Regions from separate parts of the Homo sapiens genome. Here regions 1, 2, 3, 4 and 6 are each linked to region 5. The links come from fine-mapping of genetic effects on gene expression. A gene starts in region 5. Each other region holds a variant in brackets. All regions are shown on one strand. Distances are between the middles of the regions.

The links.
Region 1: its variant is fine-mapped to the expression of OGFRL1 in whole blood (INTERVAL, PIP above 0.99).
Region 2: its variant is fine-mapped to the expression of OGFRL1 in whole blood (INTERVAL, PIP above 0.99).
Region 3: its variant is fine-mapped to the expression of OGFRL1 in thyroid (GTEx, PIP above 0.99).
Region 4: its variant is fine-mapped to the expression of OGFRL1 in whole blood (TOPMed, PIP above 0.99).
Region 6: its variant is fine-mapped to the expression of OGFRL1 in skeletal muscle (FUSION, PIP 0.93).

Annotation. Positions count from the first base shown.
Region 1 is chr6:71,215,641-71,220,598 of GRCh38, reverse strand. No RefSeq gene overlaps it. Among named protein-coding and RNA genes, the nearest start is that of OGFRL1, 71 kb to the left of the region's middle. The variant A/G (reference allele first, on the strand shown) is at 2,504.
Region 2 is chr6:71,231,370-71,236,327 of GRCh38, reverse strand. It overlaps LOC124901338 (a long non-coding RNA gene), which reads left to right and starts at 1,556. Exons shown (of 3, transcript XR_007059632.1): 1 at 1,556-1,785; 2 at 2,671-2,815. The variant G/C (reference allele first, on the strand shown) is at 2,805.
Region 3 is chr6:71,264,036-71,268,993 of GRCh38, reverse strand. All of the region lies in intron 5 of LOC124901339 (a long non-coding RNA gene), which reads left to right. Among named protein-coding and RNA genes, the nearest start is that of OGFRL1, 22 kb to the left of the region's middle. The variant G/A (reference allele first, on the strand shown) is at 2,356.
Region 4 is chr6:71,248,511-71,253,468 of GRCh38, reverse strand. LOC124901339 (a long non-coding RNA gene) reads left to right here. Exons shown (of 6, transcript XR_007059640.1): 6 at 1,825-2,111. It also overlaps the pseudogene LOC100132834. Among named protein-coding and RNA genes, the nearest start is that of OGFRL1, 38 kb to the left of the region's middle. RefSeq lists a silencer at 1,727-1,994. The variant G/A (reference allele first, on the strand shown) is at 2,897.
Region 5 is chr6:71,286,127-71,291,084 of GRCh38, reverse strand. It overlaps OGFRL1 (opioid growth factor receptor like 1), which reads right to left and starts at 2,274. Exons shown (of 7, transcript NM_024576.5): 1 at 1,915-2,274. The coding sequence starts at 2,148. The region is part of intron 3 of LOC124901339 (a long non-coding RNA gene); the gene reads left to right. RefSeq lists a silencer at 1,562-2,621.
Region 6 is chr6:71,331,740-71,336,697 of GRCh38, reverse strand. LOC124901339 (a long non-coding RNA gene) reads left to right here and starts at 618. Exons shown (of 6, transcript XR_007059640.1): 1 at 618-4,958. The variant T/C (reference allele first, on the strand shown) is at 2,504.

The DNA of each region.
Region 1 (4,958 bases), 70 kb after region 5:
AGCAAGTGTATCTTCAGGTTAATTCCCACAAGTGGGAATTGCTGCTGTGCCAAGGATAAACACATGTGTAATTTTGTTAGATAAAGCCAACTTCCCTGCATAGAGACTGTAGCATTTTGCGTTCTCATCCACAATATTTGGGAACCTGTTTTTCATAGCCCTGTATACAAAATGTGTTATCGAGCTTTTGAATTTTTTAATTCTAATAGGCGAGAAATGGTATCTCATTGAAGTTTCCATTTGTATTTATCTTATTATGAAAGAAGTTATAAAACTTGTTATATATTTGAGGGCCTTTTTTCTGTGAACTGGTTGTGTCCTTTGCTCATTTCTTAAATAGATTTTGAAAAATCTATTTAAGAAATTTTTGTATGTTAGAGCTACAAGTCCTGTGTTTATCTATGATAAATGCAACATGGAATGATAGTGGAGATGGTGCACATCCTTTTTAGGGAAATTTTTGAGACAGATAAACATAGCCAATATTTTGTCCCCATCTACCATTTGTCATTTGACTTTGTTTATGGTGTTTTAAGTCATTCAGAGGTTGTTGTTTTTTTGTTAATGTACTTGAGTGTATCAGTCTTTTATTGTATCTGGAACTTGAGTCATAACTTATCCATAGCTTACTAAAAAACTTCACCAGTTCTCTTCCAGTCCTTGTGTGGTATCTTAGTCAGTGTGTGCTGCTAGAACAAAATACCTGAGACTGGGTAATTTATAAAGAACAAAAAGTTTATTTCTTACAGTTCTGGAGGCTGAGAGTCCAAGATCAAGGTCCCAGCAGTCTTGGTGTCTGATAAGGGGCCCTATCTCTCCTTCCATGATGGCACTGTGTTGGTGCATCCTCCAAAGGGGAGATGTGCTGTATCCTCACATGGTGGAAGAAATGAAAGGGCAAGTAAGCCAAATGCTGTGCAAAGCCTCTTTTATAAAGCCTTAATCCCATTGTTAAAAGAAATGCCCTCATGGTCTAATATTCTCTTAAAGGCCTCACTTAATGCTATCACATTGGCAACACCTGAGTTTTGGAAGTGACATATTCAAACCATAGCATATTGTTTCATATTTGACATTAGATGTCTGCCCCATTTAGAGTTTGCTCTCGTCTATGATGTAAAGTAAGGGTGATTTTCCAGTTGTTCTAACATAATTTATTAAAAAGCCTGTGTTTTTGAACAATGAGAACACATGGACACAGGGAGGGGAACATCACACGCCAGGGCCTGTTGGGGGGTTGGGGGCAAGGGGAGGGAGAGCATTAGAACAAATACCTAATGCATGCAGGGCTTAAAACCTAGATGATGGGTTGATAGGTGCAGCAAACCGCTATGGCACATGTCTACCTGTGTAGCAAACCTGCACGTTCTGCACATGTATCCCAGAACTTAAAGTAAAATAAAAACAAAAAAAGCCTGTGTTTGCTCAGTGATTTGAGACACCATCTTTATCATATATTACATTTTTATATGTGCTTGTTTCTCTTTCTGAAATTGCTATAATACTTTTTTTTTTACTAATGTGTCTCTGTATGCACCTGTACCCTCTATTTTAAGTACAGAAGTTTGTATAACTTTGGTAATTGGTAAAACGTTATTCAGAATAAATTTTCCTAGCTACTTTTTTGTTTATTTTACAATATGAACCTTAGAATCAACTTATACAGCTCTAGAAATAAAACTTGTTGGATTTTTGTTAGATCACATTTAATTTATATATTCACTTGGGGAGAATTAACTTTTTTATGTTGAGTCATTCTATGTAAGAATAAAGAATTTCAGCCGGAAACACTGGCTCATGCCTGTAATCTCCAGGACTTTAGGAGAAGGTAGGAGGATTGCCTGAGCACAGGAGTTCAAGACCAGCCTGGGCAACAAAGTGAGACCCTGTCTCTCAAAAAAAATTCAAAAAATTAGCCAGGCAGGGTTGCACGTGCCTGTGGTCACACATGCCTGTAGTCCCAACGGCGGCTCAGGCAAGAGGACTGTTTGAGCCCAGGAGTTTGAGGCTGCAGTGAGCCATGATCTTGCCACTGTCCTCCATCCTGGGTGACAGAGTGAAACATCATCTCAAAACACACACACACATACACACACACACACAAACACACACACACAAGAATTTCTTTTAATTAAAATCTGCTTTTGTCCCTTTTCAGGTGTATTTAAAGTTTCCCTTGTAGATTTTTCACATTTCTTTTTAAGTTTATTCCTATTTTATATTTTTGTTGTTGTAAATGGGGTTTTTCTTCCATTATGTCTTCTAACTGGTTATTGTTTGTATATATGAGATTATTGATTTTCATATAATAAAATTGTATCCTTACCAAATTTATGTATATGTTCATTTTATTACTGACTATCTCAGGTTTCCCAAGAATATTATCTCATCAGTAGCAAATAGACATAGTTTTATTCCTTTATTTTTCCCCATTCTTGTGCCCCTGTTTGTTTTGTCTTATCTGAATACAATGTCCAACACTCCCAATTCAACATGAAATAAT[A/G]GTGGAGATAGTAAACATCCTTCTTGGGGCAATTTTTCAGACAGATAAATGTAGTAGTGTTTCATTTTCCATAGTATAGTAAGTGCAACCTGCTAGGGCAATAGACAACTGTCCCCAGGCAGAAAACCTGTTTTATTTGTGATACTCCAAAGGGTGCATTTCTGTAGAGTTAACTTTAAGATCCAATTTTCTTTTAATGCAGAGATCAAGGAAACTTTCTGATATTACCTCAAAAAAGTCTTGAAGAAATTCTTTTGAATTATATGTAGCAAATGGCTGTCTTCTCTCTGTGTTGATGGGGTGGTCTAATAAAAGCCACAGAAGTCCTGGAAATAGGAAGAGGATATGTCTTTGTGAGATCAAGTCTCAGGGCAAAAGCCAGGTTCCAGTCACTGGCAGGATAATGGAAAACTAAATTCATCTGTGTTTTTATGATTGTAAAAAACATGCATTAGGTATTTGTTCTAATGTAGTACTTTCTTAAATGTGTATGTGATTAGAAATTCTTTGGTGTAGAAAATCTTGAAAAAATTTTTAGTGACAGGGCAGCAGAGAATATAGTTATTATAGTATGTTCTGGCCAAATTCATGTAATAGCAAAACTGTCATCTCAATTTCAAGTTGCTTCTGCATACAAGTGAATTTAATAATAACATATGGGGGTCTTTTTAATCACAGATGCCCCAGGATAATTATTAAAAGATTTTTCTGAAAATTGTATTTAGTAAGACTTAATCCTTGGAAGTAGTTTGGGAAAAAAGTTATGCTACACTAAGGTAGCACATTATCTGAAGTAGTAACCAAATTTACAGTAAAAAAAATTATTGCTATAAGAAGTTATCAATCCTTATACATATAAAGCAAGTCAGAGAAGCCTCACAATGTATCAATGTGAGGAGAAAAATGCTAACTAAAAAAAATTAGTGTTTTTCTTATGGACATACTTATATAAAAAAGTATTTTTTCCAAGCAAAGTGGCCAATAATAAACAAAATTCTGCATAAATCAAAGGTAGAAAAAAAAGTCCTTGAATGATAATGTTTTAATCAAAATTTCCTGAATTCCCCATTAACCTACTTATTTTGATGGCATATAAATGGAGTTCTATACACAAGGGAAAGTCAATATTTTGACAAAGAAAACTCCAAAAAGAGAATGGGCTAAAGTAAGTTATTTCTTGTTGCAAGTAAAAAATCACCTTTAGTGGTGACTACAATTGTATTTATATTTGCTATGTTAAAATAAGTTTTTGTTCAACAGTATCTGACTTTTTGAGGCAAAGGACTTCTGTATTGTGCTTTTATTTGAAACTTGTGTTATCCATATAAGTGCCTTAGTACTTCACTTTTTACATGTCAACACAGCTATTAAACATATATATGTTACCTACCATGTGCCATGATGGTGGATAGACAGTAAGTGGTCCTTATTTTCAAGGAGCTCACAGATAGTTGGCAGAGACAGAAAGGAAAACTGATTACTGCATCTAGAGATTAAAAGGAAAGGCACAGCGATATCAGAAAGAAGGCAAGATCAATCCTGCAGGGGTCATCAGGGAAAATTGCACAGTCACAGAGACCTGCACAGCAGAAGAAGGGTCAAGAGAAGTACAGGCAGGGTATAGAAAAAAGAATAATTCGTTAAAAAATCATGTGTTTGGGAAATAGCAAGACATCTGGAATGGTGGCAACTCTTTGTTCAATGTCTGTTTTCCCAGATAGATTCCAAGGTCTGTAAAGCTAAGAACTATGTCTTTCTCATTCAGCATTATATTCCTTTCCAGTGTCTAGCATAGTATCCAGCACTTTTAAGAAACTCAGTGACTATATTCATGTTTTTCTACCCATGCTTCTTAATATTTTTATTAATCATAGAATACTTAATACATATAAAAGTTTATAGTATAATAGATACCCATATACCCACCACCCATATTAAGAAACAAAATATTACCAATCTACTTAAGGCCTGTTATGAACACGCCCACTTCTCCCCAACCAATAACTACTACTGTGAATTTTATATTTAATAATTTTTGGCTAAATTTTGTATTTAGCAATTTAGTTAATATATTTGTGGAAATATTTAAACTTGATATAACTATTATCATGATGTATATTTTTTCCTTGATTTTGTTTCTTTCCTTAACATTATGAGATTCGTCCATGTTGACCCTTGTATTAATTTTCATTGCTACATAGTAGTCTGTTGTGATTATACACAATTTTTCTTTATCAGTTTTGCTTATGATGGGTGTTTATTTCCAATAGTTTGTTCTTACAAACAATGATGCTATACATGTTCTTGTACATGTCTGTTGTATATGTAATAGAGTTTCTGTTCTAGGTATACACTTGGAAGCAGATTTGTTGATTAGTATTGCTCAGCTTTCTCACCAGTACTTGGAATTGCAGCCCTCCTCTATTTTCCCTGATTGGATATATGTGAATGGTAT
Region 2 (4,958 bases), 55 kb after region 5:
TTATTAGTGGCACTTCTTTTAACTCCCAAATGCATCTCCCCTGAGAATCAGGGAAGGAGAAGTGAAGGTGCTCCATGGAAGTTAGCAGACTGGAGCCAGGTTTGAAAACAGAGGCTAGGTGGGGCTCTGGTTATATAAACATAATTATATAAATATAATTTATTAGGCAATAGTTGTATGGTCACCTAAAACTATATAGGATAGTCTGAAGACAAATAGGACTGCCTATTTTTCTTTAAGGAAGGAAAAAGTCACAAGAAAGTAATATTTGGAGAGAAAAGAGCTGTGAGTTTTCCAAAATTGAAGAAAAATATGTCCTCAAATTGAAAATGAACTATAAAAACCAAGAAGGATCTACAAAAATATATTCATACCCAGACTTACCAAAGTAAAACTGGAATACATCAAGAATTTGGACATGTTTTTACCAGCTACAAGGAGAAAAACAGGTTACAACAAGAAATGGTAATTAAACAATAAATCAAGTGGGCTTCTCATTAGCAACCATAGATGCCATGAAACAATAGAGAAATAAATTCAATATAATGATGGGAAACTGGAAATTTAGAATATTATATCCAAATAACTTAGCAACACAAACAAGGTGCTGGAAAATAGATTCTCAATCTATAATATATTCCTGTTTAGGTTCTTGGGTTTCTGAGTAGGATAAAAATACTAGATAATTTCAGATATTTTTAAAATTATAGTTATAATTAATATATAATTCACAGCTTTGTATGTTAAAAGCTTAAAAATATTTTTATTGGAAATTAACAATTGAATATATCTATATATGGAAATGTAAAGGACCAAGACCAGAGAAGACAATTTTGAAGAAGGACAAAATCCCTCTAAGGGTTATCAAGATGTATTGCAAAGTGATGATATTTAAGACAGTTTTGCATTAGCATAAAAATAGACAAATAGAAATATGGAAAAGAATAGAAACATTTGTGACAATTTGTTTCATGATAAAGCATAATGCAAATGAAAAAAGAATGGTATTTTTAATAATGATTTTGGGTCAACTGGTTATCTATATGAGGAAAAAACACATTTTGACATCCTACCTCACATGACACACAAAAATCAATTCAGGGTTGGAGGTATATGCCTACCTGAAAAGTAACAATTAAACATCAAGAAGATAAGAGAGAATATCTTTATGACCTTAAGATGGGCAAATTTTTTTAAAGAAAAATAGTGATTAAAGGGACATAATTAAAATTAAGAACCTCTGTTCATCAAAAACCCCAGTAAAATAGTCATATGGTTTGGCTGTGTCCCCACCCAAATCTCATCTTTAATTGGAGATCCCATAATCTCCATGTATCATGGGAGGGACCCGGTAGGGAGTCATTGGATCATGGGGGTGGTTTCCTCCATGCTGTTCTTGTGATAGTGAGAGTTCTCGTGAGATCTGATGGTTTTATAAGTGTCTGGCATTTCCCCTGCTTGCACTCATTCTCTCTCCTGTCACCCTGTGAAGAGATGCCTTCTGCCATGATTGTAAGTTTCCTGAGTCCTCCCCAGCCATGCAGAACTGTGAATCAATTAAACCTCTTTTCTTTGTAAATTGCCCAGTCTCATGTATTTCTTCACAGCAGCATGAGAATAGACTAACACAAATAGTGGAAGAGAAGACCACCAACTGGAAAAGATACTTTCAATATTTTTACCTGACAAAAGATTATTATCCAAAACATATTAAATGTTTCTGTGAAGCCATATAAAAGACAGACAATCCATTAAAAAATTGGAATAAACTTGGATATTGAACAGGTAATACATGAAATACAATACATAAATGGGTGATAGCCATATAAAGTGCTCAAAATCATTAGTAATGAATGAATTAAAAATTGTGTGCATGCAGCTACACACTCATCAGAATAGGTAAAATCTAGAGAAACAGGTATTACCATATATTGAGGATATGCAGCAACTGGAGCTTTTATGCACTACACATGGGAATATAAATTGGTACAACCTCTTCAGAAAACTATTTGGCAGTAACTACTAAAACTAAACATAAGCATAGCCTACAACCCAGTAATGCCAGTATTTCACTCCTAGGTATATACCCAACAGAGTTGTAAATGAAATGTCAATGAAAGGCAGGTACAAAGAATGAAATGAAATTAGAGAATGTTTAAAACAGCATTATTTGTAATCCCCAAACACTAGAAACAATCCAAATGTCCAGCAAGAGTAGAATGGATAAATAAATTGTGGTGCATTCGTTCAATGGGATACTTCATAATAATAAAAGTAAATTAATCATCAATATAATCAATAACATAGATGAGTCTAATAACATAAGAATGAGCAATAGCAGCCAGATGCAGAGTTCATGTCATATCCCATTTATGAAAAGTTCAAAACAGACAAAGCTAATCTATGGTAAAGAAGACAGATATGGTTAACCTTAAGAAGAGAAGGGAGATACTGAGGGCGATTCAGGGTATTGGCAATGTTCTATGTCTTAATCTGAGTTATAGTCACACAGATGTATTTACTTTGTGAAAATATATTAAAATCAACATTTCTGCATATAAGTGTGCTCATCTGTATGTATTTGCTATACATGAAATAGAAAAATAAGGCATAATCTTAGGGTTACCAATATAGAAATAGAAATAATCTTGATATTTTTCAAACCTCCAGAGGAATCAAAAGAAGGAGGAAGAATAGAATGATTTGGAGGAAAAGAAGGAGAAAGTAGAGGAGTTGAAAAAAAGGAAGAAAAAGAAAAATGCAGAATCCTTTGTCAATCCAACAGAACACAGCAAAAAAGCAAA[G/C]AAAGTGAAAGGTAAGTAGATAGCACAAAAGGAAATGGTACAAATAAGCCCAAAAGTGTAATGTATCAGAGTCAATGTGGATAAAATTCACCTATTAAAAGGCAGAGATGGGATAATAATAACATAAATCCTGCTGTATCCTGGTTAATAAAAGGCACACCTAACACCAAACCAAAAGAAAATTTTGAACATAAAGTTTTGAAAAACTAAGAGGTTTTTATTAAACCTCTTTTATTAAACCTATTTTATTATTTATAGTAAGATGACGTGTTAGTCCATTCTCATGCTACTAATAAAGACATACCCAAGATTGGGTAATTTATAAAGAAAAGAAGTTTAATTGACTCATAGTTTTGCATAGCTGGGGAAGCCTCAGGAAACTTACAATTATGGTGGGAGGGGAAGCAAAAACATCCTTCTTCACATGGCGGCAGCAGAAGGAAGCGCCCAGCAAAGAGGGAAAACCCCTTATAAAACCATCAGATCTCTTGAGAACTCACTATCATGAGAACAGCAGCATGGGGGAAACCGCCCCATGATTCAATTACCTCCCACCAGGTCCCTCCCACAACAGGTGGGGATTATGGGAACTACAATCCAAGGTGAGATTTGGATGAGGACACAGCAAACCATCTCAGGTGCATTATAAAATAATACAGAACAATCCCCAAGCCAATAAAATAATCTTTAACTTGTATGCACTTAAACATAACATCGCACTAGGCAGAGAAAACTGATAGGATTACAAAAACTGACAAATCCAGAACTATAGTAGGATACGTTAAACACTTCAATAAGAAAAAAGGTCAAAAATAAAAAAGAAAAAGAAGAAAAAACAGGTCAAATAGAAAAAGCTAGAAGAATATAGAATATTTGAAATACTTGGTTGTACCTAGCCCTAGCTTAGCTCTCTCCCTACTCCTGCCTATCTTCCAAGACATACACACCTAAACCCTCAGGCTACTTAGAAGTGAGTATAAATCAATTACAAGCTCTCAAGCTACATCTTGTAGAGAAATACCCTCACATTCAGTTAATATGGGAAGGGACCTAAGGGGAATTCACTCAATCTATACCAGAACAAAAAACAGAGTTCAGATGCAGAGCTCACTGAAAATATGAACAAGATGAAAAAAGGATGACATGAGAACTAGGTAAGCAGAACAAAAAATAAGAATGAAAGGAACTCTATAGCAACAAAGAACACAGAGAAATATTCATGCTATAGAAAATCTTATTAAGTACATGAAATGAATAAAATACAAGCTCAAATGTAAGATGATAACAATACAGAATGATGTAAAAATGGAAATTGACAATATAAGGAAACAAATTGAAACTAAAATAACACCATTACAGAACTTATAAACAAATTACATGCAGAAAGAAATTTAATGGACATGGCTGAAAAATAAATTGCTCTACAAAGAAAAGGCTTGAGATAAGCACAGTAAAATCAACGGAAAAAGATGAACAGATTAGTAGAAATAGAGAGAAGATAATAGCTAGAGAGAAGTGACAAATATGCCATTATATAAAGATAATAGGTATCTCTGAATTGAAAAACCAGTAAATGACTCAGAAAAAGTATTCCAATAGAAAATAGAAAAATAATCCTGTAATGCAAGAATAAGACACTCTGCAACTCAAAAGTGCATATCATATTCCAAGACAAACATATTCAACCCTATTTTTCCTAAGTCATATTCTGTTGTTACTGAATTTAAGAATAAGAAAAAATTATTTAGCCATCCAGAGACAAATAATAAGCCTCTTATATTTGGGAGCAAAGCAGACTGGACTCAATCTTCTCTGGAGTAACATTCTGGGTTACAGGATGATAAAGCAATGTCTACCAAGTTCTAAAGGAAAAGAAATGTGATCCAAAAATATTGTATTCCACTAAGATTCCACTCAAGTATAAATACCACAAATAGATATTCTTAAATGTGAGAGAATATAGTCATGCATTGCTTAATGACAGGGATACATTCTGAGAAATGCATCCTTAGATTGATCTCTTTACTGTGGGAATAGTGTACTTACACAAACCTGATGGTATAACCTAATACACACCTAGGCCATATCATATAGCCTAGCTCCTAAGCTACAAACCTGTACAGCATGCTAATGAACCAAATACTGTAGGCAATT
Region 3 (4,958 bases), 22 kb after region 5:
ACAGTGCAAAGGGAAGATCTAAAGCTGAAGATGGAGCAGAATTGAAAAAACTACAGGCAAACCAGCCCCCAACTGAACCACAAAGTGTCACTAAAGGAATTTGATGCTTGTGGTGCCCTAAGGGTAACCACTACAGTGGAGGAAGAGAATTAAACTCAGCCCAACTCCTAACGCAGACTCACACTCTAGAATCCTAGCAGAAGGACAGACAGGTGTATGCATTTTCAGGCATAAAATCTATTTTCCTCATCTCTGCTGTCCTTAACAAGGTGTCTGGCTTTCAACAAAAAATTACAAGTCATACAAAAAAGTGATAAAGAAAACAACAACACACTGTCAAAAATAAAGCAGTCAACAGAACCAGACCCCAGATATGACAGAGATGTTGGAACTATCTGACAGGAAATTGAAAATAACTATGAGTAATATGATATAGCTCTAGTGGAAAAGGAGAACAACATGCCAGATCAGATGGGTGATTTCAGGAGAAATGGAAACTATAAGGATCAATCAAACTGAAATGCAAAAAGTGAAAATCACAGCAACAGAAGTGAAGAATGCCTTCAATGGGCACATCAGAAGATGTAACAAAGAATCAGTGAACTTGAGCATCAGTTTATAGCAATCACCCAAACTGAAACACAAAGAGGGAAAAAAATTCAAAGCTTCCTATGTATTCACCCAAGAGAAGTGAAAACTTATGTTCACACAAAAACCTGTACATGAGTGTTTATCATACTTTATTCATAATCACCCCAAACTGTGTGGCCCAGGTGTATTTCAACCAGTGAACAGATAAACAAACCATGATACAGCCACACAATGGAATGCTACTCTGCAGTAAAAAGGAATGAACTATTGATGCTTGCAAGCATATCGATTAATCTCAAGTATATTTTGCCAAGTGAAAGTAGACAGACCCATATTATTTCATGTATGTACCTTCCTGGAAAAGACCAAAATTGTGACAGAACACGGATGAGTGGTTGCCAAAGATTGCAGGTGCGGGTAGTGGTTGTCTACAAAGGAGCAGCACTGGGGAACTTTTGGGGTGAGAATTGATTTGTGTCATGACTGTGCAAGTGGATACATGGCCCTAAGCATTTGTCAAAATCTGAGGAATTATACAACTCAATGAGTGGATTTTACTCTATGTAAACTAAATAAAAATATACTAAGATGTGGGGGTATCCCAAAATGGAATACAAACTATCAAATGTTACTAGTCTAACGTATGAGTGACATTACCACACTGACACAGATGGAGAACAGAACTAACCTAAGTAACTTTTAGAAGTCAGTATTTTGATTGGATTCTACTAAAATGAAAGAAAAAAACTATTGTACCTAGTTGCTATGTGCTATTTAATAAATGTGTTTCTCACAGGGGTATGAGTTAGCAATTCTGAAACTACTTGTGTATACTAACATTGAAAAAAAAGCAATTTTATTTTAAACTGTGAGAGCCAGTTGTACATTTGAGAAAGAACAACACTGTGGCTCCCTCCTCTCCCTCTCCCTCCTCTCCCTCTCCCTCCTCTCCCTCTCCCTCCTCTCCCTCTCCCTCCTCTCCCTCTCCCTCTCCCCCTCCCCACGGTCTCCCTCTCCCCACAGTCTCCCCCTGATGCTGAGCCAAAGCTGGACTGTACTGCTGCCATCTCGGCTCACTGCAACCTCCCTGCCTGATTCTCCTGCCTCAGCCTGCCGAGTGCCTGCGATTGCAAGCGCGCGCCGCCACGCCTGACTGGTTTTCGTATTTTTTTGGTGGAGACGGGGTTTCGCTGTGTTGGCCGGGCTGGTCTCCAGCTCCTAACCGCGAGTGATCCGCCAGCCTCGGCCTCCCGAGGTGCCGGGATGGCAGACGGAGTCGCGTTCACTCAGTGCTCAATGGTACCCAGGCTGGAGTGCAGTGGCGTGATCTCGGCTCGCTACAACCTCCACTTCCCAGCTGCCTGCCTTGGCCCCGCAAAGTGCCGAGATTGCAGCCTCTGCCCGGCCGCCACCCCGTCTGGGAAGTGAGGAGCGTCTCTGCCTGGCTGCCCATCGTCTGGGATGTGAGGAGCCTCTCTGCCTGGCTGCCCAGTCTGGAAAGTGAGGAGCGTCTCTGCCCGGCCGCCATCCCATCTAGGAAGTGAGGAGCGTCTCTGCCAGGCCACCCATTGTCTGAGATGTGGGGAGCGCCTCTGCCCTGCTGCCCCGTCTGGGATGTGAGGAGCGTCTCTGCCCGGCCGCCCCGTCTGAGAAGTGAGGAGACCCTCTGCCTGGCAACTGCCCCGTCTGAGAAGTGAGGAGCCCCTCCGCCCGGCAGCCACACCCTCTGAGAAGTGAGGAGCGTCTCCGCCTGGCAGCCACCCC[G/A]TCTGGGAGGGAGGTGGGGGTCAGCCCCCCGCCTGGCCAGCCACCCCGTCCGGAAGGGAGGTGGGGGGGTTAGCCCCCTGCCCAGCCAGCCGCTCCATCCGGGAGGGAGGTGGGGGGATCATCCCCCTGCCCGGCCACCTGCCCGTCCGGGAGGTGAGGGGTGCCTCTGCCCGGCCGCTCCTACTGGGAAGTGAGGAGTCCCTCTGCCCGGCCAGCCGCCCCGTCCGGGAAGGAGGTGGGGGGGTCAGCCCCCCGCCCGGCCAGCCGCCCCGTCCGGGAGGTGAGGGGCGCCTCTGCCCGGCCGCCCCTACTGGGAAGTGAGGAGCCCCTCTGCCTGGCCAGCCGCCCCATCTGGGAAGGATGTGGGGGGGTTAGCCCCCCGCCTGGCCAGCCGCCCCATCTGGGAGGTGAGGGGCGCCTCTGCCCGGCCGCCCCTACTGGGAAGAGAGGAGCCCCTCTGCCCGGCCAGCCACCCCATCCGGGAGGGAGGTGGGGGGGTCAGCCCCCCACCCAGCCAGCCGCCCCATCCGGGAGGGAGGCGGGGAGGTCAGCCCCCCGCCCGGCCAGCCGCCGCGTCCAGGAGGGGGGCGGGGGGGTCAGCCCCCCGCCCGGCCAGCCACCCCATCCAGGAGGTGAGGGGCGCCTCTGCCCAGCCGCCCCTACTGGGAAGTGAGGAGCCCCTCTGCCCGGCCACCACCCCGTCTGGGAGGTGTACTCAACAGCTCATTGAGAACGGGCCATGATGACAATGGCGGTTTTGTGGAATAGAAAGGGGGGAAAGGTGGGGAAAAGATTGAGAAATCGGATGGTTGCCGTGTCTGTGTAGAAAGAGGTAGACATGGGAGACTTTTCATTTTGTTCTGTACTAAGAAAAATTCTTCTGCCTTGGGATCCTGTTGATCTGTGACCTTACCCCCAACCTTGTGCTCTCTGAAACATGTGCTGTGTCCACTCAGGGTTGAATGGATTAAGGGTGGTGCAAGATGTGCTTTGTTAAACAGATGCTTGAAGGCAGCATGCTCGTTAAGAGTCATCACCACTCCCTAATCTCAAGTACCCAGGGACACAAACACTGCGGAAGGCCGCAGGGTCCTCTGCCTAGGAAAACCAGAGACCTTTGTTCACTTATCTGCTGACCTTCCCTCCACTATTGTCCTGTGACCCTGCCAAATCCCCCTCTGCGAGAAACACCCAAGAATGATCAATTAAAAAAAAAAAAAAAAAAAGAACAACACTGTGTTGCTGAACTAGAATTGGATTGGAACTCTGAACGCATAAATATATATACACAGACTAATGTAGATATAGACATAAATGTAAGTACGTGCTGCATGGGGCAAATATATATATTTATTTATACACACACACTCACATATGTATATATGCATGTGATCTCTTTTTTATTAAAATTCATGCACCTCTTTCAAGACCAGCTCAATGCTAACCTTATCCATTAAATCTTCCATTTTGACTTCTGTAGATTCCCATTTTGCTTTATAATTCTCTTATAGCATCTGTCAGATTTGACTTGCACTTTTGTACATATCTTAGATTTTTGTACATATTTCCAGATATCAAACTCTTAAAGTTTGCTTGTTTGGATTATATCTTTTACAACACCTTCCATGGTCTCTTAAATTGTATAGATACTCAGTAAATGTACTGAATGGGATTTAATGTTAGAGATATCTAGACACAAATCTGAACATGTAGGAATTATTACATGTCCTTGAGGTAATCGGTTATCTTCAAGCTAGACTCCTCCTTAGGGCCGTAGAAGGCCCAAAGATACTCTTCAGGGTTCAGTGCTGGGCTCTCAACATTTTCCCTTTTACTGTATCTTCAATATTATCTAGTCCCCATGGCTATGAAAACTAAATGCTGATCATCCTTGAAGGTATATATCCAGCCTTAACTTCTCCTCTGGGAAACTTGGGCATCTTCCTGATCCCCTTGCCATTTCCCTCTCCTCACTTGCCCCCAACCCACAAGGGAGGTATGTGCCAGCTCTCTTCCAATTCTCCTCCAGTTAACCCATCACTGTCATAGTCTAAGCCAGCATCATCTCCCACCAAACTTCTAAAGGCTTCTGAACTGATCCATTGTTTTACACACTTTATTTCAACTCTTTCTTCATAAAGCAGTTAGAATGATTGTTTTTAACATCTATATCAAGTGTCAGTTTAAATTTTTGAAAATTCTTCAGTGACTCTCCATTGTACAGAATAAAATCAAGTCCCTTTATGTTTTTGTCCTCAAAGCTCTGCATACAACTGTGTTCCCAGTCATGAGCCTATAGTCAGTTCCTAAACTCAGCAGTCTCTTTCCTTCTTTAGGGCTTTTGCAAACACATTTTACTTCTGCTGGAACAGAGTTTCTCAAACTCTCTGTGGGGAAGGATCAAATCTTTTTCCCCCCAATCTATCAGAGAATTATACGTAAAAAAACCAACTATTAGAAAAAAATTTTAAAGAATGTTTTATTTTTAGATTTAACAGACATAAAGTTAGTCTTATCAAATTGCTATAAATGTTACAAATGCTTCCTCTCAGTTTCTGTACAGATCTCATTAGGGTCCAGGAACAGTTTTCTACTGAGTAACA
Region 4 (4,958 bases), 38 kb after region 5:
TTTGTAACTAAAAAAAAAAAACCTTTACATTTTTATTTCTCAAGGTAGCTTACCTCTACTTTCTGAAAGTTGTAAAATTTTTGGTTTAAAAATTGTCACTCTATGATTGTCCCAATTTGTTTTTCTATGCCATGACAAAAACAAAATACTTTCAAAATGTTCTGAGCATTTAAATGAACATTTAAGTGTATGTAAATAAACTTATTTAAGTAACTTTTATGTTGGTAATAAACCAACACATGCATTAAATACCTCTTCAGCGTAAACAGGAAATACTGATGACGATGCCAGCATGGAACTGTCAATTCACATTACAGCACAATTAATAATCAATCTGACTAGTTTAGTGATATTTAAAGGACACAATTAGTCACTATATCTGCCAGAATAATTGAATATGTTAACATTCTCCTCGCGTAAATACCAATTTCATTATCTCATATCTTTCTCTTTACTCGTCTCCAGATAGCAATAGCCCTCCCTGTGTGGGTCATGTAGAAATGACCCAGAACTTGTTGGTCTAATATTTTCGGTCTAATTCTTTCCAACCTTTGGTAAACTTAGAAAGCCTGCAGGGATCTCATATTGATGATTTTCAATCTTTTAATTGTGATAGTCTTTTTGTTATTCTGTCTTTTCACCTTCCTTTGCCTGTCCATCTATAATTTTCAATTCAAGTTTATATCAGTCTCTTTCTTGAAACCTGGAGATTTCATCAGCCACAGATTTCCTTTTTTTTTTTTTTTTTTTTTTTTTTGCCTTTTCCTTTATTTCCTTTTCAAGCCTCAAAAATTCTTCCTGTTTTTACTTCTGCTGGGTATTACTTTCAGGTAGTAATTTTAGTTTACATTGACATTGATGGTTTTTTTGCCACTTTGTCTCTTTCTCTTCTTCCTCTTTTAGCTTCCTTAAAATATAAGCATATTTAATTGACACTTAAATATTTTTCTGTTTTTTCTAAGCTTCAATCACCAATTTGGTTTTTTTGCTCCTCTTTTTGCTTGTGATTACATTCTTGTTTACTTTGAGGAAGGACTGGCTTATCCTTCATCTTTCCCTTTAACTTGAAAGTATTCTCCCTGTTTGCTGTTTTTTAGTTTTCCAATTTTGAATAGATTTTTTTTCCTCTCTTCTAGAGTCAGACATTTTTAATGTATCTTTCATACTGTTGCACTTTATCCTGTGCTTTTCCAGGATGGTGTTGCAAAACTTTCCCTATATATCTTGTCTTCTTTTTATGTTTGTTTCTCATTTTTACAAAGTTCTGGTGATCACAATCATCCAGCACCCTTGACATCCTCCTGTTTACTGAAGGAATTTTGCAAAATCTACCATTTCTCCTGGAAGACTACTTTGTTGTATTCTGTCTACAGGAACTTTGCTTAACATTCCTCTGAAAGTTCTCCATGTTTCTAGTGACCCAAAGCCCATATGTCAATTTTCCTTGATACAGTATTCAACTAATTTTTGGCTATTTTCTTGTCTTTATTAAGCTTTTCATGTAATCAACCTCTGTTCTTTCTTAAAACTGTTTACTGTATTTTTAATTGCTTAGGTTCATTTCTCTGAGCTTTGCAACAAAATCAGGTGTAGGTGTCACACTTTATAACTGATGCTAAAGTCACTTTACATTGTTATATATTTTGAACAACTGTTATTGGGTTTTTGCTCTATTTTCCTGCTGATAATCAATTTATTTTCCAATTCTTTCAGCACACTGCCAAATTCTGAAGTTTTGTTGTTGTTGTTGTTGTAGAGATGACTCTATGTTAACAATTTGATTTTTAATTTTTACTGCTGTACATATGAACTTTGTTTTCTTAGTTTGAATAGCTCTCTGGTTCCAGTTTGAAGCTGAAAAGGTTAAATTCTACCTGAAGGATGAAAACAACCAACATTCTGTGCCAAGACAGTCAGGAGGGCAACCATGTTTCCTGGTGGAGCCTCTGGAACCACTCAAGCCAAGATGACCGGGGGTTTGGCTGGGAGGAGATGGGGAAACTACAGACCCTACAGATGGTTTCCTGTACCATGAGGTTAAGCCTGGGGGCAGGAGAGGCTGTACCTTAGTTCCTTCATCTGTAAAATAAAGTAACATAGTACCTACCTCATAAGGGTGTTCTAATGATTGAACTTATTATACGTAAACTTTGAACAGTTTGTGGCTCAGATTATTATTTCTAGTTTCTCAGATCAGTTTTTCTGTATTTTGACCTTGCTTATTCTTTTGAATGCTGCTGACAGTTCTCACATTTCTCTTTATCCTTTGTTGTCCAGCCAGGTTTTAAAAAGAAGGTGTAGATCACTAGGGTTTCTTTCCTCTGCTGTTGCATGAGTAGGATTATTTTCCTTCTAGGTCTCTGTAAGAAGAGTTTTGACCGAGAACTTCATGCACTCTGTTGAAATGGAGCACATCTGCTATAAAACTTCACTTTAGGGGCTGATGAGCAGGAACTGAATGTCAAGCTATAGATCCCTAAATAAGGTTGGCTTTCATATGCCCTATATCCTTTTCAAGATTTCAGTTAATAGGGCATTAAATGGGAGTAGTGATGATACACTAAAGTGGTAGATATTGTGAAAAGAATGTATAGAGTACAATAAAATCTTTACATAAGTTCTGCACTTGACAAGGGAGAAGAATCAATTGCTTAATTAAAAGTGAAATGTTTTTATCACTTTGAGATAATGCCCTAGGATGATTTTGAAAGTGACATGTAGTTGACTCTCTAGAATTGAGAGTAATTCTAGAATCATTATGATATTTTTTTGTGCATCCTTTAATTTTATTTAATAGGACAATAGATTTTTATTTCCCCCAGGCCGAGGCAATGGAGTATCTTTGAGTAATCTGCAAGCTGGTCCAAAGGGAATAACAAAGGAGGAAATATTCTTC[G/A]TAAACAAGCCCTGCAACCCAAAAGTGGAGTAAGAATTTCCTGTCCCAGTCTTAGGAGATGGTCAAAAGCTCTGCATATTTCTCCACTGAATTAGATTTCATAACTTCCTGTGATGTCATTTGCTATTTTTCCCCTGGCTTGAGTTAGGACTTCCCTTTCAGAGTTTTGTCAACCCAGTTTTCTTTAGACCACTTTAGAAGCAAGAATATCTACTACAGATTCATGAAAAGAGCACTGAATAAGAAGTTAGGATAAGTGGATTTCTAAGGCCAATTTTCCTTCTTACAATTTGACTTCAGAAACGAGTACTCATACCAAGCTCACATTTCCTAAATAATTCACATTCTTGAAAGGTAGAAAGAGCTGTCTTACGAAATGGTGTGTTTCCTGTCATTGAAAGTATGCCAAAAGATGCTTGAAAACCACTTCTTAAGACTCTTGTGCAATTTTCATATAATAAGATTAGACTTGATGGTTCTATAAAAAAAACTCTCTGAATCTTGAAACTCAATGATTCTGTGCTTTAGTTCTATGAAGAGAAGAGAAGCAGGGAGGGAATGATGAAGGGATCTAGCATATCTATTCAGCCTTGTGTGGATTTCAGCCTTGGTCTCTGGAGATGCTTCAAGCTTCCTAAAGTGGTACTTCTGCCTGTCCATTCTGACTCCATCCTTAGATACCCACTTTCTGATCCAAAATAAGCATGTCCATATGAATATGTTTAAGTCAGAGGCAGCTAGATGTGTACCCATAACTGGAGGGTGGCTAACCAGTGCAAACATAGATTTCTTTACATTCTTATTCTTCTTTTTAAAAATCTTATGACTTTTAAATTGTATCTCATAATACCTCTGTTCTAACATAAGATAATATTTTAAATTATCAATTATTGGCGGTGATGAACTTGCCCCAATCCATCTATGCAGATGTTTCTTCCTATGCACAGGGCAAATGCATTTAGTTTAAGAAGCTCAGGGCAACACATTTGACTGGCACACTGGATTCAGGTTTATTATCCATGGTCTTCTCACATCTTTGGAGTCTGTCTTTGCAAGACCCACCCCCTCCATCATACCAGGTCCCCATCTAATATGGAAGGAGGAATCTAATGATAGGAGAGGTTCATGGTGTTGTTTAAATAGCCCCCTCTCAGCTCATTCAAGCAGCTCTTCTCAGTCGACTCTGAACTGCTTACAATGACACATTATAGTAGAATTATTTCAGAGACCTTTTTCAACTCAATCTGGGTGTGCCTCATTGAGCTAATAAAATCCTCACCCCTGAGAAATGGTGTAATATGTGTTACATTTTGCTACAATTCATGATATGTCTTTGGAGAAGAATTGTACATTTTATATAATTTGTCAAGGACAATTTCAAAATGCATAACATCATCAATCTCACTGACAACATCGCTAATGGCTTCACTCAGTAGTCAGAGTTTTGCCAAATGCAAGCTAAGACTCAGGCCATCACACACCTGCTCCCAGCCTATTGTTTCAGATGTATCATCTGTTGAAAAGTTAACAGAGTAGGAAAAGAATTCATCCTTGAAGCATTTCCCCTCTAATTAAGTCAACAGATGCTGTTTGAAGTCTATACCTGGGGAATTTATTACTTCAGTTTTAAAAAGTAAGAGAAATTCACAGATCTGCCTTCATAATAATTGTGTTTTTTTTTTATCAAGGTCACCAGCCTAGTAATAACTGATAGTAGTCAAGAATTTGTGATGGTTGTCATTTTCAAAAACATTGGAATGACATTTTCCAAAAGTGCTTTCATTTGAATTATCATCTGGGCTTTATTGCTCCTGGGCTGGGCTCTCCCTCTCTTGGCGGGAGGCTAGACAGAGCTAGCCTTGCTCAAATGGGCTTAAGGGGTTGGGGGAGGTGGCAGGAAGTAGCTCTCAGGACCTTAATGGTTGGATGGAGGCAGACAGCAAACAGTGAAGTCAGAGGTCAAAGTCAGAAATGCATAGCTAAACCAGTCACCAGGGCAGAAACATCCTGAGGCATGCAACAGTTAACTGGTACAGCCTGTGAGTCAAAGAGCCAGTGAAAA
Region 5 (4,958 bases):
CATACCCTCTAAATGGAGGGGTGCCTAAGGTCCTCAGTCGTCATCACTCCTTGATAACCCCTTATCTTCCCATGCCTTTAAATACCATTGATCTCAGATGCTGAGGACTCTAGTCCTGGACTGTCTCCATTCATAGATGTAATTTAACTACCCAACAAATGATTAACTACCCAACAACTCTACTTGGATGTGTAATAGGATATCAAACTCAAGAGAATCGTTGATTTAACCTCCATAGCTGCATTCTCCCTAGACTTCCCTGTCTTGGTTAATGTCACCATCATTTGTTCAGTATTCAGAGGGACTAGGATGATGCAATGGAAGTGGTGTGAAGGAGTCAGTCTGGGATACGCTTTAAAAGTAGCTCCAGTATTACCTGCAAGTGGATTGACTCTGAGGAATAGACAACAAATAGGGTTGGCAGTCAAAAGGCAAAATTGAAAAGCAGATTTTTTGGGGAAGTCAGATGGTGATACTAACAAGAAAAATTAATCATTAAAAGGGAATAGGGAGGGCTGGTGTAGTCTACTAGTTACTGGGGTTGCAGTTAACTGACTGAACATTATTAAAATGTTTTATATAGATGGACCTGGTTAGTTGGATTGAATCTTAGCTGGTGTTTTTTGATATTCCAAATTTCTGTAGGAGGTTACTTAATTGGGAGACAAACGTAAGGGAAAAACATGAGAATGCAGCATCTAATAATTTAATAAGATTGAATTAGCAATGCAAAACAACAGCGGCAAACCAGACACAGGGGCAGATGGAAATTCAGAATTCCACAGGTCCAAGGCGCTGATATCAGTGATAGATAGACTTGGGTTTGCATCATCCTCTCCCTCAGTGATCTTGGGCAAGTTTTCCTTTCTCTCTAAGCCTCAGTTTTCTCTAAAATGGAGACCACACAGCAAACACCCACCCCAAAATTGTAGTTCATTTAAATAACACGTTTAACACAGAGCCTGCACTAAGACTTTATGATTTCCTCCTTACCTAAATAGAATTGATCATCAAGATGGCTGAGGCGGTGTTAGCTGTAATATTTAGGTTATGATTCCCCCAAAACCCTGTGGTCACATTGGACTTTGGGCTCCATTTTCCCAATCTCCATCGCCCCTAGCTGATAAAGAGAAGGGCCTAATGTGGAGCGGCAAACCTGAACCACCTCCAGGATGCACACTTCTTCAGGGGGTCGGCTACATATTTCCTCCTTTTTAAAGTTCCTGATTATTTTCAGTCCATCAGAGGTTAAGGGGCTTATCTCTTGACTAACCTCTCCTCCAAGCTGTATTAGTCAAACAGTTCAAACACAGTTGGATCAACAAGTCTTCTGGTGAAATAAGATTCGTGAAGAATGCCCTGAATCCTAGGTTGAAAGGCCTGAGTTGGGCAGAACAGTGACGTATGAACTTCAGATGAGGGCCTACACTTCTGACGGCTTAGACCCCACTGTAGGGGAGAGCGCTGGCTGCTTGCACTTGTAGCCCCACCTTATTCTGAGTAATTTTTTTTTTTTTTTTTTTTTTTTTTTTTTTTACCAATAACACACACTAGAGGGGTTGTCAAAATCCTCTATTTTTAGACAGGTTCCTCCCACCCCACCTTCGCATAATCCAGCTGCTCTGCAGAGGCAAAGAAAACACCCATTCAAGTTGGGTTCTGCCTTGAGGGACTTCCTCGCCGTGCCCTCGGCCAGGCCCCAGGCCGGCAGTGGGAGGGTCCGGCGCTTTGGGCTCCTGCAGGCCCCCGGGCTCCACCGGGAGACAGGTCAGCCGCGGCGCGGAGGGGTCGGGTCGCAGCGGCGAGCAGCCACCTGGCGCCCCTGGCCTCCGAGCGCGAGGGCGGCTTGGCACTTGCCCCTCTGGGGTGTCGGGGCGCCCCAGCCCGACCCGAGGCCACCGCTGGGCCGCGTACCTGCTCGGCGCCCGCCGCCTCGGCGTCCTCGTCCGGCGCGGGGCTGGCGCCGGGCCGCCCGCCGGCTTGCTCCGGGGGCTGCGCGGGCTGCTCGGACTCCTGCCCCGGGCCCTCGCTGCCGCCGCCCGGCCCTGGTTCTTCGGGCTCGGGCTCCGAGTCGGTCTGCCAGGTGGAGTCGCAGTCCTCCACGGTGGTGGGCTCGCGGAAGCTGACCCCGCCGAGCAGGTTGCCCATTGAAGAGGCGGCGGCGGGCGCGGGGCTGCGGGGCTGCGGGGCGCAAGCTGCGGCAGGCGCTCTAGGGCCCGGGCATGGCCGCGGCGAGGGCGCTGGGCGGCAGCCTAGGCGCGCCCGCCCCGCACTGCCTCAGCGCGGCGAGCGGCGGACAGGCACCCTCGCGGGGAGGAGCCGGCGGCCCCGGGACCGCCGCCGCGCGCGCCTGAACCCGCCCATCCGGCTCCTTCTCCTCCCCACAGGCGGGAGCTGCCGCCGCCCAGAGCCCCCAGGGGAGCCAACTGCGGCCCCCAGCCGAGCGCCACCGGCCCCAGGCCGCGCCTCCCTTCCACGTTTCTCCCCGGAACACCTGCCTTCACGCGGCCCCCGGCGGCCCCCGGAGTGGATTGGGGTCGGCTACTACCCTCGCCGCCCGGAGCCGGGGGACGCCCTCCCGGGGCATCTCCCAGCTGAGCGGGATGAGGGATCCCGCCCAGCTCCTGGAGCTGAGGACTGGCGTGGACGTGGTGTCGAAGAGGTGTCACCGTCAGCAGGCGGGTCCTGTCCACACCCCCTCCCCCTCTCCCTGGTCCAGGAGGAAGACACTTTAGCTGCAGCAGAGGACAAAAGCTGATGGTGCCGGGCACCATATAAACAGGAAATCCCAGCTGCCACAACTGTACTTAGGGCAGCCACCTAGAGTCCTTGTGGTCTAGAAAAAGTCAGAGCTATCAGTCACCTCATCTAATGAGCAATCGCTCGTGAAACAAAAGGAACAGTAACAACTGGACCATCACATTGATTTGCGGGTAACCTTACACCCACTACAAATTGGTGCTCCGTGTAGGCAAAAATCTCAGAATCAGTAGAACAGATGGGCTGTTTCTAATGGAAGAAGCCTCGGCCCTGTGGTCTGTTCTGCAAATGAAAGGAGGAGGGAGAACTGTGTTAGGGAAGTTCTTTCTTTTTTCTGTTCTGTTCTGTTCTGTTCTGTTCTGTTCTGTTCTGTTCTGTTCTGTTCTGTTCTGTTGTTCTGTTCTTTCTTTTCTTTCTTTTTGAGACAGAGTCTCCCTCTGTTGCCCAGGCTGCAGTGCAGAGGCGCGATCTCGGCTCACTGCAACCTCCGCCTCCTGGTTTCAAGCAATTCTCCTGCCTCAGCCTCCCAATAGCTGGGATTACAGGCATAAGCCTATAGAAGTACGTAAAGATAAGGTAGTATTATCAAATATGTGACCCAGAGAAAAGTGACTGTTGTAAAATGTGTCTTCTGGCTTTCTAACTAGAAGGGAAGCCTCTTTGCAGGCAGCCCCCGTCTGAAAGTGTGTCTGTATTTACAGTGCTGTCAACTTGGTGGATGCTCAGTAAACATTTGTTAAATATGGACTAAGAAAGATGAGCTAGATATTTGAAGATTAAACTGTTGAACTTGGAATGAATAGTTTCTTTTCAAATGTTTCATGATGAAGTAGGAAGCCAAATCATGTTAGATGGACTGTTTCTAAGGGAAGAATCAGGTAAACCAGCTGCCTATTCCATGGATAAATCAGGATTACCTAAGCTCTTCATGCACTGCAACAAGACATCTAGGCTGTAGCTCTGTCACTAATCAGTTTCTGACTTTAAGTAGGTCACATGAACCTAAACTTCCTCATTTGTAAAATGAAACCAGATCTCTGGGAGCCCTTCCAGCTCTGACCTTCTGTGATCCTATGACTGGGAAAAGCTCTGAAACTAATAAGAAATAGACACGGGGTGCACAAAAAGACTTTTGGGGCCGGGTGCGGTGGCTCACGCCTGTAATCCCAGAACTTTGGGAGGCCGAGGCGGGCAGATCACCTGAGGTCAGATGTTCAAGACCAGCCTGGCCAACATGACGAAACCTCATCTCCACAAAAAAATATAAAAATTAGCCTGGCTTGGTGGCGGGCGCCTGTAATCCCAGCTACTTGGGAGGCTGAGGCACGAGAATCACTTGAACGCGGGAGGTGGAGGTTGCAGTGAGCTGAGATCAGGCCACTGCACTCCAGCCTGGGCGACAGAGTGAGACTCCATTGCCCCCACCCCCCGCCAAAAAAAATACTTTTTGATTATAATGGCTTAGCAGAAGAAGATGTGGGGCAGCCACATACCACAGGAATCCAACTGCTCAAAGCTGGGAATTCGATTTTCCGTTGGTAGAAGACCGGAACACATTGCAGAAGTAGATATTGTCCATCCAGCCTTAAGTGTTCCGAGATTGTTGATGTGGAAAGTCTAAGGATAGTTGTTGTGTCCCAGGCGCTCCATCTGTTGGTTTAGGTGTATGTAGATTAAAGTTGGCCACATGTTCTTTGCTCTCTTCCCATTGAGAAGTAGTCTTATTCCTTACTCTTGAAGGAGCTGGCCTCAGTGACTTGCTTAACTATAGAATATGAAAGAAGTGATAGTCCAGGATTTTCTAAGTTAAGCCATAAGGAACCTTGCATTTTCCACTGGGTCTCTTGGAATATTCTCTCTGTTAGCCCCATGCTGCCATGTAAAAAGTTCAGCTAGCTTGAGACTGCCATACTCCTAGAAAGGCCACTTGTGTGTGGCCTCTGGTCATCCTCTGGTCATGGTACCAGCTGAGGCCTACCTTCCAGTATCCCCTGCTGGATTCCACGTTTTTGTTTTTTTTTTTTTATTGAATCCTCCAGACCAACCCATCCACCATCTGAATACCTTTCAGTGACCTCCATCGACCCTACTTGGAATAAAGGGACTACCCAGCAAAGCCCTGCTCAGATTTCTGACCCACAGAAGAGTGAAATGCAATAAAATGGCTGTTGCTTTAGGTCACTAAATTTTGTAGTAGT
Region 6 (4,958 bases), 46 kb before region 5:
TCTAGGTTTTTATAGTTTTGGGTTTTACATTTAAGTCTTTAATCCATCTTGAGTTAATTTTTGTCTAAAGTGTAAGGAAGGGGTCCAGTTTGAATTTTCTGCATATGGCTAGCCAGTTATCTATCCTGCACCATTTATTAAAAAGGTAATCATTTCCTCATTGCTTGTTTTTGTCAGCTTTGTCGAAGATCATATGATTGTAGGCCTCTGGTCTCATTTCTGAGTTCTCTATTCTGTTCCATTGGTCTATATGTCAGTTTTTGTACCAGTACCATGCTGTTTTGGTTACTGTAGCCTGGTAGTATAGTTTGAAGTTGGGTAGTGTGATCCCTCCAGCTTTGTTCTTTTTGCTTAGGATTGTCCTGGATATTCAGGCTTTTTTATGGTTCCATGTGAATTTAAAAATAGTTTTTTCTAATTCTGTCAAGAATGTCAATGGGTAGTTTAATGGGAATAGCATTGAATCTACACATTACTTTGGGCAGTATGGACATTTTCATGATATTGATACTTCCTGTTCATGAGCATGGAATGCTTTTCCGTTTGTTTGTGTCATCTATGATTTCCTTGAGCAGTGGTTTGTAGTCCTCCTTGAAGAGGTCCTTCACTTTCCTTGTTAGCTGTATTCCTAGGTATTTTATTCTTTTTGTAGCAATTGTGAATGAGAGTTCTTTCATGATTTGGCTCTCTGACAAGCTCTGTAATATTCTTTTATACATCCCTGCTTTGGTATTTGCTGTTTTCTTTCTTTTCTTTGCTGTTCTTAAAGAAGTAGCTCCAACTTACATCCTACCCTTGGGCAGAATTGCTTTTCTCTCACAGTACATATCTTTATTGCAAACCACCCCATTATGCATTGTGTGTCTGTATGTGTGCCTATCTGTCCCTCCCATACACTGCTCAGTGTTACCTTTGTTAGATGTGAATCACCAGAACAACAGATGCTTTTCATTCACCTGCTAAAAAGACCAGCAGGTATCCAGGACCCACTGAGCACTGTGGCTAGGCAGCATCTCTCAGAATGTCTGCATACTTCAATTGCCCCTTTTGAGTTGCATAGTAATCAAAAGTCTATTGCATTTGTTCTCACATCTTTATAACAGTTTTACTAGTTATGATAAGCAAGTAATCTCATTAAATATTAAACAAACATAAAATGAGCACAGCAAAAATGAAAGTTTTATTTCTGTGAAATGTATTCTGAAAGCTTTGGGAAAACTTGATAAAGGAAATCACAAAACAAACAAAAATATCCTGACAAATTAATTATGGGAAATACCATTATACACAATTGAAGGGAAATTTTTAAACATCCAGATGGATTCTTCACTCAGATATATTGCAAGTATCATTAAATCTTTGCTCCATTTTAAAGAAGTCACAGTTGAAAAGTATGATGCATGGATGGGTCAGTTTTTATCAAGAAGAACAAGCTGTAGCTCCAAACAACAGTGTCAGTTTAATAATTTAAAAAAAAGATCCTGGCTTTACATCACAAGATTGGCAAATCAATTAAAGGTATAATAAAAATGTTTAAGAAATATCCCTTTTAACCTTCTTTAACCCATGTTTAAACATGAACTAGCAAATCCTTGACAAAAGGCCTTCTACTGAACTTTACCCTGTCTCCTAACCTTTGCTGCTAAGAGTGAGTAAAAATAACAGAGTCAAACTGAAACTAAGGAAAGGAGGAAACCCCTCTCTGATGGGGAAACTGAAATGTGACTGACATGCTACCTGTGACTATGAGTCACCTTATGGAGGACACTGGGGTAAATGAGGTATGAGAGATGGAGACAGAAAGCCTGCTGATTTGGACCCCTGAGAGTTGCTCCCAAGACCAGGCACACACCTTTTGTTCTAGAATTAATCACACAAACAGCATCTTTTCCTTTTTATTTGAGTTCTTTAAAGCTGGGTTTGTTTCATGTGTAAACAAACAAGACCGGGTAATAATAATTTTAAAACCTCTACCTTACATATTAAGGAATTACTATGGAATCTTTTAATTGACCCAAAAATATTACTGGATGTAATATTACTGGACATCTCTTCTGTGCCAGGCTCTGAGGATGGAACAGTGAACAAATCAGACAGTCCGGGTTCTCCTGGAACTTACAGGCTAGTGCCCCAAGGGCTGGAAAGGATTGCAGATATATATTTTGTATTTACATCACACTAATATTTGTATCATAATATTATTGCATTCATTATGTGTTAATAGTTGACAGATCCAACATGGACCTTGAAGAACATGTGAATATTTTCAAGGGAGTAGCCATAAACCTTTATTTGAATGCCAGTGAAAATAATTACATACTCCAAATCATATTCCTGTGCCATTGTCAAATTCAGAATTTGGTGTTAAAGGAACTGTAAGACTTAACAAGCAAGGCAATTTCTTATGTTCTCATGATACAAATATATAGAGAGTAGCCCCACGTGGATTGGTTACTGCTGGGTGACAGTACTTGTAGAAATTCAGAACTGGAAGATGCCTACA[T/C]GTAAGGAGTGTGAAGAACAGAGGAATTAACTGGTTCATTCATGGTCAGCCAGACTGCAAATGTGGCAGTTCCCAGCCAGGTGTTCACAGTAGGTCACCATGGCTTGAAAATATGTCACAAGTAGTTTGTTACTCATAATAAAAGAGTAACAGTTGAAAATTATTACTTTTTTTCAGAAATTAGATCACATTTTGATTATTCCTATAACATGCTCATTTGCATTCCAAGATTCATTCTTGAGCAGAAGAATGAATCAGCTTATTCCCTGCTTGTGAGCCAGAAATTGCACATTCCCTGGGAAGTTCCTGAGAGAAGATTGTGCAAACCGAGGTTACGAGTCATGTTTCTTGTCACTGGACACATAAAGGCTAAGAATCTTGTGACCTGGTGGAAAATCCAGGACTAGAACCCAGTATTTTGAGTTTTTTAGAGAGTCTTGTTTTTTAATCAACTTATAATAAAGGGTAGGATGGACTCTCAATCTTTAAATATGGAGGAGAAAATTTAACATGTGATTATTAGTGGCCCACGAGAAATAAACCCACATCAAATGAAGCTCAGTTTGTGGTATCTCTAGAACACTTTCTTCCTCTGTTCCTCAAAGATCTGGTGGTAATTTTAAAACCTTGTCTAACTTCTGTTTGTTGTAGAGGAGGTTAATACTTTGCCCAAACTTGGGCTTCATCACATGGTATTAGAACATGCCAACTAATGCCCTATTCAAATACCTCAAATAAAATAAAATAAAATATCATTGATTTGGGCCCAGTGCTATAAACTTCAGTTTCCAAAAGCTTTCAGTGTCAATTACTTCCCATAGCAAAGCAGTCCACAAGCCTCTTGATGATGTTTAGAGTCTTATATCATCAATTGCAGGCCTGTTTATACTTCACAATAAAATCTAATTTCTCGTACTTACTGTCAGAGTTAGGCAGCCTTATTGAATTGAATTCCTAAAGAAAATGATGATCTCAGAAGTAAACTTGAACTTATTAAAACAAGCTTGCAGTCCAAATTTCCAGCAGCAATGGGGCTTCCTAATTCAGTTAATTCAATACATGCTACTCAGCAGTTTGAAGGATATACTTTCCAGAATATAGTGAGATCTCACCCTATTAGAGGTAAAAAGTGAATTGAATGCAATTCATACAATATTAATAACTTGCTCTACTTTACAGCTTAGTAATAAAGTTATTTATGCTCCCAGAGGCGTTTCATGACATTCACAGTAGAAAGATGGCAGTAGACAGGTGGGCTGGGCCTGTGACATTTAGAAATAGCAGAACTGTGACACCTTCCTGTGAGGCTACATAGGATGATGGCCAAGGAGAATGACCCTGGTACAAAATCTTTATAAGCAGCACACTGAAGAAGAGACATAGACTCTAAATAAACTTCTATCCTACCTTTTGGAACAAGTGAATAGCAAAAATTGTAATTTAGATGAACATAGTCTGGACATAGATCAACTAGCTACCACACCACAAATTTATCTTTCCCAGATCAACTGTATCCTTTCAAGATTTAAATTACACATTTCGCCTAGCTCCTCACACATTAACATAAGTTATACTCAACCTCCACTATACACATAGATGAAATTTTTGTCTTTAATTATGTACTGTTTTATATTCTTTTATCCATACTATTTTCTATTGTTTCCTATGTTCAGTTCCAAGCACCTAGAAAACGATAATCACATCTTATGCAGTGCTCCCCTATCTCCCACAACACCTGCCACAGTAGTAAATAAAAGACCAATGCTGAAGAAGTGTTTGTAAATAAAGAAAGAAGATGCCAAAGTTTTATCTGATAATCATTTTCCATGATCAGATGTAGGATGTGCAAACAGAAGGAAGTGGCATCATAAATAATTCAAAGTAGCAGATAATTGGAAGGTCATTTCTATTTTACTTTGAAATGCATTAAGGCTGGCCACAACTTTAAACAACAGCCCACTTATAGTCTCATCAGCAAATGATGAGTCATGTGCTGTGATAAACTAAAAGATGAAGAGGAATGGAACACAGTTTCCGTATTTTGTCTACACAACATTTATCACCCACTTCCTTCTAGCATCCTATTAGCCTTCTAGGTAATTAGCTCCCCGATTATGTTCAATCTTGTTGGGAAAGTAAATCCAGGCATCACTGGATTCACTAATTTTAACTAATTTCTTCAACTAATTTCAACTAATTTCTCTGTTATTACCTGGCATAACTAAGGGCTGGTACATCACTTATACTTGGCCAATCAGACACACTTTTCCAGGGCTTGAACTTTAGGCCATGTTATGCCAAGGCAGAAAGGAAAAAGGACATTCCAGGGCTCATAACATACATGGGGCATCCATCAGGTCTTGCTTCTAAGACTTAGTGGAAATTCTTAGGTCCCATAAATTCCAAACAGGTTCTGGTAATCTGAGTTTTTAATGAATTCACTTGTAATAGAATA